Homo sapiens: one gene and its partner. Each later gene encodes a partner of the first gene's protein in a complex. Each region holds a gene or a part of one and is shown in the gene's direction. Other genes may lie near its edges. The genes, in order: STX8 and VAMP2.

What was found.
Region 2: STX8 (region 1) and VAMP2 share a complex: the UniProt entries of both Homo sapiens proteins name them as parts of the SNARE core complex.

The regions. Positions count from the first base shown.
Region 1 is NC_000017.11:9,250,537-9,254,549, reverse strand, and holds part of STX8 (syntaxin-8), read left to right. Parts: intron 1-3,904; coding exon 3,905-3,972; 3' UTR 3,973-4,013. UniProt on the Homo sapiens protein: Vesicle trafficking protein that functions in the early secretory pathway, possibly by mediating retrograde transport from cis-Golgi membranes to the ER.
Region 2 is NC_000017.11:8,160,149-8,164,343, reverse strand, and holds the start of VAMP2 (vesicle-associated membrane protein 2), read left to right. Parts: upstream 1-1,395; 5' UTR 1,396-1,464; coding exon 1,465-1,466; intron 1,467-1,467; exon of another isoform or gene 1,468-1,892; coding exon of another isoform or gene 1,893-1,900; intron 1,901-1,974; coding exon 1,975-2,095; intron 2,096-2,577; coding exon 2,578-2,736; intron 2,737-2,819; coding exon 2,820-2,871; intron 2,872-3,472; coding exon 3,473-3,489; 3' UTR 3,490-4,195. UniProt on the Homo sapiens protein: Involved in the targeting and/or fusion of transport vesicles to their target membrane. Major SNARE protein of synaptic vesicles which mediates fusion of synaptic vesicles to release neurotransmitters.

The DNA.
Region 1 (4,013 bases):
GTGGTGGGCACCTGTAATCCCCGCTACTTGGGAGGCTAAAGCAGGAGAATTGCTTGAACCCAGGAGGCGGAGGCTGCAGTGAGCCAAGATCACGTCACCGCACTCTAGCCTGGGCGCGAGACTCCATCTCAAAAAAAAAAAAGATTTAATAAGAGTTACCATGGAAACTTAGGGGGGCAAAGAGGGCACAGGTAACTGGAGGATGACAAAGAGTTCTTTGGGAAAATGCCACTGAGTTTGAGGGATTAACTAGACCACGAGTGGGGAGCTCCCGGATGGAAAGGATAGCGCGTGTCGAAGCTGGGAGGCAGGGCCCCTACCTTCTGCATCAGCCTGTTGGGGGCACCGGAGACAGCCAGGATGGCTCAAACACAGCGCGCAGAGTGCGGCTGCAGGGTTGCTGGGTCAGACTGTGCAAGACCCCCTTGGCCACTGTAAAGTTTGGATCTCAGTTTCAGCCACTGGAGGATTTAAGCAAGGAGGTGACCTGATCTCCTTTACATTCTGAAAAGCTTGCTGTAGTTCCATCGTGGAGCAGGGACCGGGGAAAGCAGTCCCTCACTGCAGGGAGCCAAATCAGGGATGGCAGTGACTGCGCATGCCTTGAGGCCTCTTCCCTTGGACCTCACGCTCCGGGTGTATGAACCAAAACCAGATGTGTGTTTTCTTCTTCCCAATCAGTTGTTGTTCTTGATTTCTTTGTTCTTGTCACTTGCTCCGCTCTTCTCATAATCACCCTGATTTGACAATTCACGGTCATTCATACTGGCCTCTGCTCCAGGCCATCAGAGCCTCAGTGTGGAGCCTGCCTTGATGCATGGAGCTTCTGGGCCCAAGTGTCCTCCCAACTGTGATCCCACTGGAGCTTCAGGAGCAGTACCTCTTCCTAAAACACCTCTCATCCTCTCCCTCATCTCCTCAGCTGCCAGCCCCTCCCTGTCATCTTAGGGTGAGCCCAGGCCCTGGAGTGCCAGGGATTGCCCCTTCGCCCCATCCCAGCCTGTGCCTGCCTCCTCATTCTCGTTATCTTCTCCTCATGTTGCGCAACATAAACCTTCACCCAGCCAGGACCAAGTCTTCAGCTGATCACCACACAGGCACCAGAATAACCAAGAACTAGTGAAGCTCCTGCCCAGGGGAGCTTTTGGTCAACCTGAAGATGTTTCTGGAGCAGAAATCAGTGAAAAGATTTGTTCTTCTGCTTCTGGCAAGAAGATGGACTAAGATATTCTCACATACACACACATACGCATACACACACACACCCGTATCCCTACCTTCTCACTGCAGATGGACTAAGATATTCACACACACACACACACACACACACACACACACACACCCCTACCCCTGCCTTCTTGCTGCAAGCATCTTGAAATGTGAGGTAAAATAGTGTAACTCCACCCACCCACAAATGTTAATGCAGGGCTGAATTTACAAGGAAGAAAGGAAATCCCTAGATGAAAGAAATGAAGAGCGCATTGAAGGCCAGCGCCTAAGTGGGCGAACTGATGCTGCAGGTGGGTCATCATCATGATGATGGAGAGCAGGAGCTAGCAAGCCTCTGGAAGAGGCCAGGTCGTAAACGGTTTAGGCTGTGCAGACCACAGACGGTGTCACATCTCCTCCTTTTACCTTTTTGACAACCCTCTACAAATATAAAAACCATTGTTAGCTCATGGGTTGCACAAAAACAGAGCACAGCTAGATTTGGCCCATGAACCAAAGTTGGCAGAGCCTTGAGGTAGACTAGGATGAGGTTTTCATCTACAGGAAGACGGGGGAGAAACCTTGGGGCCCCAAGAGAAGCGTTTCTCAAAAGATTGGATCATCAGAGAAAGAGCCCATATCAGAAAAATGCAACCACAGTCACAGGTAGATGACAAAGAAGCTTGCCCTAGTTTTTTTTTTTATTTTCGTTTTCTTTTTTTTTTTTTTTTGAGACAGAGTTTCACTGTTGTTGCACAGGCTGTATTGCAGTGGTGTGATCTCAGCTCACTGCAACCTCCGCCTCCCGTGTTCAAACGATTCTCTTGCCTTAGCCTCCCAAGTAGCTGGGATTACAGGCACCCACCACCACACCTGGCTAATATTTTTTTTTTTTTTGAGACAGAGTCTTGCTCTGTTGCCCAGTTTGGAGTGCAGTGGCGCAATCTCGGCTCACTGCAAGCTCCGCCTCCCGGGTTCACGCCATTCTCCTGCCTCAGCCTCCCAAGTAGGTGGGACTACAGGCGCCTGCCACCACGCCAGGCTAATTTTTTGTACTTTTAGTAGAGATGGGGTTTCACCATGTTAGCCAGGATGGTCTCGATCTCCTGACCTCATGGTCCGCCCGCCTCGGCCTCCCAAAGTGCTGGGATTACAGGCGTGAGCCACTGCGCCCGGCCAATTTTTTAAATATATTTTTAGTAGAGACGGGGTTTCACCATGTTAGCCAGGCTGGTCTCGAACTCCTGACCTCAGATGATCTGCCCGCCTCGGCCTCCCAAAGTGCTGGGATTACAGGCATGAGGCACCGTGCCCGGCCTATTTTTTTAAATATATTTTTAATAGAGATGGGGTTTCACCATGTTGGTCAGGCTGGTCTCGAACTCCTGACCTCAGATGATCCGCCCGCCTTGGCCTCCCAAAGTGCTGGGATTACAGGTGTGAGCCACTGCACCCAGCCACTTGCCATACATTTTTAAGTCTCTTCAATATTCAAAACCATGGTGCAGTGCCCACATGGGTTGAGCTTAAGATTGGTATGGCCTGATCCACATTGAACCCTGAGGATCTGTGGAGGGGATTCGGGAAGCCCGTGAACTTGGACCGGAAAGCAAATTGGACTCTTATGTTCACAAATGTCTAATTGAAATTTAGCATTTTCTTTGCTCACGAACATATGCCACAGACTACCGTGGCGTTCAGCAGTCCTGATGGCTGTGCAACCATGTGACCCTGCACACGTGGCTCTCCCTGTTACTTTCTGAAGCATTTTCATGGACCTCTCCTCCTCTGCTACCCACCTCTCTCGTGGGGCCTTGGCAGCTCAAGGACTCTTCAGTGAGCAAACCTTTCTTGAGTGCTTACTTTGTAGTAGGGCGCCCCTTCTCTGTTATGCTATACCTTGTCGCCGCTGGTACCTGGCACGTGGTAAACACTCGTTAAATACTGGGCAAGCGAACATGGGAGACAGTGAGCTCATTGCACTAAGTGAGGGCTGCATTCTGTGGGGCCCACTTCATCAGCATCAGGTGAAGGAACAGGCAATGGTCAGTGCAGACACACGACCCAGAGGAGGCAGGGCGGGGCTGGAAGGCAGAGTGGCACCCAGCATGGGCTGGCTAGGAGGGCCTGTGCTCTCCAGCCAAAAACGTCAGGAAATGAAACTAGCAAATACTAGCAGAAAAAGTATATATCAAAACAAGCACCTCTATCGGTGAATATTTTTACAAATGGGTGACTTAAGGATCTTGGACTCAAGAACACAAAGTGAAGCCATGTGGAGAATGGAGAAATGGGTTCTAGAATGCTCTCCTAAGCCCTTTGCTTTATCAATGCGTCATCAATGCATAATCTGATTGGGTAGTGAGGGTGGCTGTCGTCAGCAGCTTGCGCCCTCCCTTGTGGTCCAAGGTGTACACAGATGCTAGAGTTAGGGGCCTCACCCCCTCCTGGCTTGAGTGCTGCCTGGGGGGGCCTGGCCACACCCAGGCCCCTGCCTTCTGCACTCAGCATCCTGCAAAGCCAGAGCTGTGTAGCAGCAGCGGCGCCCCAGGCCACCGACCACCTCTCTCCACTTCGTACAAACTGAAGGCTCAGAGGGAACTACATCCCTCTGAGTCTCTGCAGACACTCAGAATGTGTGATGCTTTTCTGGTAGGAATCATTAAAAGTAGTATTTTCTGCTGCTTTTTTCCAGGGATGATCATGGTGATTTTACTGCTGCTTGTGGCTATCGTGGTTGTTGCAGTCTGGCCGACCAACTGATGGCAGTAAAGAGACCACCAGCAGTGACACCTGCCAATGAC
Region 2 (4,195 bases), 1.1 Mb from region 1:
AAGGCCATCAGCCTCCCTGCACCTTCCAGGGATGTAGTAAGCACCCCCACCCCAGGGCCAAAGGGCCTCGCCTAAAATGCCTCCTGCACCCTTGAGGCTTGCTTTGACCCCCTGCACTCCACCAGAGCGACAGCTCCCCTGGTCCCATCTTCTCTGACAAGCTGGGTGGGAGTGTATACAGCTGCTGGGTGTGCTTAGAGGGCCTAATGGAGACCAGCCAGGGATAATCTCCTATGTTATCCACATCAAGCCATTTAACAAATATGGATTTAGTACCTACATATGCAATGTATTTGGGGTCCAGAGAGAGGAGGGCAACGGTCCAAGGTCACACCTGCGAGGCGAATACGCATGTAAAGCAGCACCTTGTAACCTGTGCCCACTGTGCCTACTACTAAAGAAAAAAAAATGAGAGAAAAAGAAAAAAGGCTTTTTTTTTTTTTTTGGCCCAGGCCCTGTGCCTGGGACCAAAGCCTGAGCCCTTTCCTGCAGTCGGGTCGCTGACCTAAGCCTGGGGCAAAGCTAGGTCTTGGCCAGTCAGCAGCCACCACGTGAAGCAGCCCCTGCCCCCATCACCCCCGGCAGCCTTGTGCCCTCCTCCTCGGGGTCCTCAGCTCACCCCACCTCAGTCGGGCCTGCTCCAGCGGTTAAGTACCCCTAGTCTGAACCTTAATCGTGAGGCGGGGCAGCCCCCTCCCCACACCCTGTAGACACTCCCCCGTCCTCCGCCCCCTGGACTTGTTTGGGCGGGAAGAGCCTGCCTCATCTTTTCTTCCTACCCTCCTACCCAGTGGCCAGGGACCCCAGGCTTCCTCTGAGACATCCACCAGCGGTGATGGGTTGGGACCAATCTCCCCCACTCCTCTCCACCCTAGCAGTAAGGTCCCCGCTCTCGATACTGCCCCAGCACCTGCACTGGCCCTCTCTGATTTCCCAACTCCAGCCCATTCCAAGTGCTGAAGGCGGGTCGCTAGGTGCTGGGACCTGGGCGCGGGGCAAGACCTTGGGCTGTGTGGGGTGCAGGCTGGTTTACTGGGTTCACGATTGAGGGAGTGGTCTGGGGGTTAGGTGTAGGGCCAGGCTGCGTTGTGCTCTAAGGGGCAGGCGGCAGGCGGTTTGGGGGGGCTGTGGTCAGACAGGGTGGGGTGGCGGTGGGTTTGGGGAAGCCGCAGCAGCCCGCCTTGGGGTCCCGCGAGTGCCGAGGGAGCTGCCGGGGCATGGTGGCGCGGGGCCCGTGGTCCTGCCCGGCACGACCCCCGCCCCGCAGCGCCCCGCAGCGCCCCGCCCCCGCGGCCCCGCTCGCGACGCGTCTCCCGCGGCGCCCCGCCCCCGCCCGCAGTGCCCGGATGCGGGTGACGCGCGGCCGCCATCTTTCCGTCCCGGGCAGCCAGCGCCAGTCGGAGCCAGCGCGAGCCGCCGCCGCCATCACTGCCGCTGCCAAGTCCTCCACCCGCTGCCCCCGCCATGTGAGTCGGCCGCCCGCCACCCTCACCGCGCTTCCCTGCGCCGGCCGCCGCCCTTGGCAACCGGCCGTCGGGAGTGCCCGGGGTCTCTCCTGCGTTCCCCGCGCCCCGGGGCCAGGCCCAAGCCGGTGACTGCGCGCGGGCGGCCGAGGAGCCCCGCGTCCCGGGCTGGCCGGCTCGGGCGATGGCCGCGGGAAGGAGCGGACCCAGTGTCCTCCTGCCCCTCCCCGCCCCTGTCACCGCGGCCGCCTGTCTTTTCGGGTCGACCCGGATCGCATCTGTGAGGTCGCCCTCAGTTGACAGGCGGGGAAACTGAGGCCGGGGGGGCCTCGCTCAAGGTCACGCAGCTCATCGGCGGCAGGGCTGGACCGAGACCAGGGCTTACATCGGGTGGCCTTCCTCCCGAAAAGGAGGACTGGAGGGACGAGGATGGACAGGTGGATGGGCGGAGCCCTGGCTGCGGGGCCGGGAGGCTGCAGGCCCTGGGTCTTAATCCGTCCCTGCTCCTCAGGTCTGCTACCGCTGCCACGGCCCCCCCTGCTGCCCCGGCTGGGGAGGGTGGTCCCCCTGCACCCCCTCCAAACCTCACCAGTAACAGGAGACTGCAGCAGACCCAGGCCCAGGTGGATGAGGTGAGTGTGGGGGGAGTCAAAAGCAGTAGGAGGGACCCTGGGGGTTGGCGTATAGGTGTAGGGGCCCATGTTGGTTTGGGAGTGATGACAGTTCACGCCTGTGGGTTTGCGGACAAAGATACCATGCCCCATCCCTGTCTCCCTGTCAGCACGCACTTGGAAGGGCGCTGGGGGTGTTAATCAGCTTTGCTAGCCTGGGGTGTGCCAGCCTGGGCAGGTGTGCTCTGGTGATGGACAGAGCGCCTGAGGTTCCATAGAGGGAGGGTGTTGCTATGACATCTGAGATGTCACCAGCATGCCCCTGATGTGTGCTCCTTGCATGTCCCCAGGTGTGCTAGGCATGTTCTGTGTGTCCTTGGCATGTTAACCTGGCAGTATCAGGGTGCATGTTCCATGTGTGGCACGGTGGGCACATGTTTGAGGATTGCCCTCACTGAGGTGGGCCTTGGCACACCCCCCTGCCTCGTGGGCCCTTCTCCCAGGTGGTGGACATCATGAGGGTGAACGTGGACAAGGTCCTGGAGCGAGACCAGAAGCTGTCGGAGCTGGACGACCGTGCAGATGCACTCCAGGCGGGGGCCTCCCAGTTTGAAACAAGCGCAGCCAAGCTCAAGCGCAAATACTGGTGGAAAAACCTCAAGGTAAGGGTGGGGACAGGAAGGAGGACAGGTGGGTGAATGGGGTATCATAGTTTGTCTTACTGATCCTCGCCTCTCACCCCCAGATGATGATCATCTTGGGAGTGATTTGCGCCATCATCCTCATCATCATCATAGGTGAGTAGGGTGAGAATGGCCGGGGCCCTTTCCCTGGAGAGGTTTCCCCAGTGGATTCTAGGTTTTGAAGGTCATTAATCTAGTTTTTACTCTTCAGCCAAAAACACATATAGCTGCTAATGGCAATTCTGATTCATCTAGAGCCAAAAACTTTGATGTTATTTAGCCTGCATTTTGCCTAGTTCTTGGCAGTCTTGTTAACATTTGGAAATAGGAAAGCTGGTGTATCCATTGAGGACCCTTTAGGCCTAAGAGCCCAGTCTGAGAACCCTGGAATTGAGGAGTGGGAGAAAGGAAAGGACCAGGGGCTTGAGACATGACCAGGAAGCCAACCACCCCATTATTTGAGAGCTTGCGGTCTCAGAGGCTCAGAGGATTAGGGTCTGTGGCTTCAAGGCCATACCATGGAGCGGAAGGGACCTCAGAACCTACCTGTCTAGCCCCTTGCTTTGTAGATGGAAAAACTGAGTCCAAGAGAGGGTGTCAGCCAGCTGGGGAGTGGGGAGGATTGGAGCAGGGCCAGGCCTGACACACTGCTTTCTTGTTCTCTCTCTTTCTCTCCCCTCTCCCTCTTCCTCATCTTCTTCCCCTCTCTCCACAGTTTACTTCAGCACTTAAATCCCCGAGGAGTCTGCCCTGCCTAGAGAAGGGCCTCTCCCCCAACCCTCAGCCGTTCCTCCACCTCTCAGCCATATCTTTCAGCCCCCACTCCCCTGGATCCGTGTGTGTGTGTGTCCGTGTGTGTGTCCCCCTGTAAATAGCCAGCTGTTATTTATACATATATAATATTATATATATTTGGTCTGTTTGTAGTTTTATTACTAGATGATTTTTCCGGTTGTCCTTAACACCCCTTCCTGAGGTTCCCTTCACCCCTCTCTCTTGCCTTCCTTCCCTTTCCCTTTCTTCCTGACTAGCCCCAAGTCCCTTCATTTGCATCTGCTATGCAATAGTCCCTCTCCTTTCCTTCTTCTTCCCTCAGATTTAGCTGATCCTTCCTCCCACCCTGGCCTTCCTTTCCTCTTTCCTCCTCACTCTCCCCGTCATGCTCCCTCTGCCCCGCCCTCAAAAAAAAAAAAAAAAAAAAAAAAACAACAGCACCTGTCCAGGCTTCCTTAGGTACATCTTCTTTGTATCCATTGGGAGGCTCTGAGACTGGCCCCACTTGGTCCTAAGAATCCCAAGGTCTTTGGGAGCGTCCAGCATGTTAATTAGCGTATCATTACATACTGCTATCCCTTTCCATTTCTTTTTGTTCCATCACTCTTCTCTCAACCTGTGTTTCTTTTTTTACTGAGGAGTTAGTCCCCATTAGTTCTTGTAT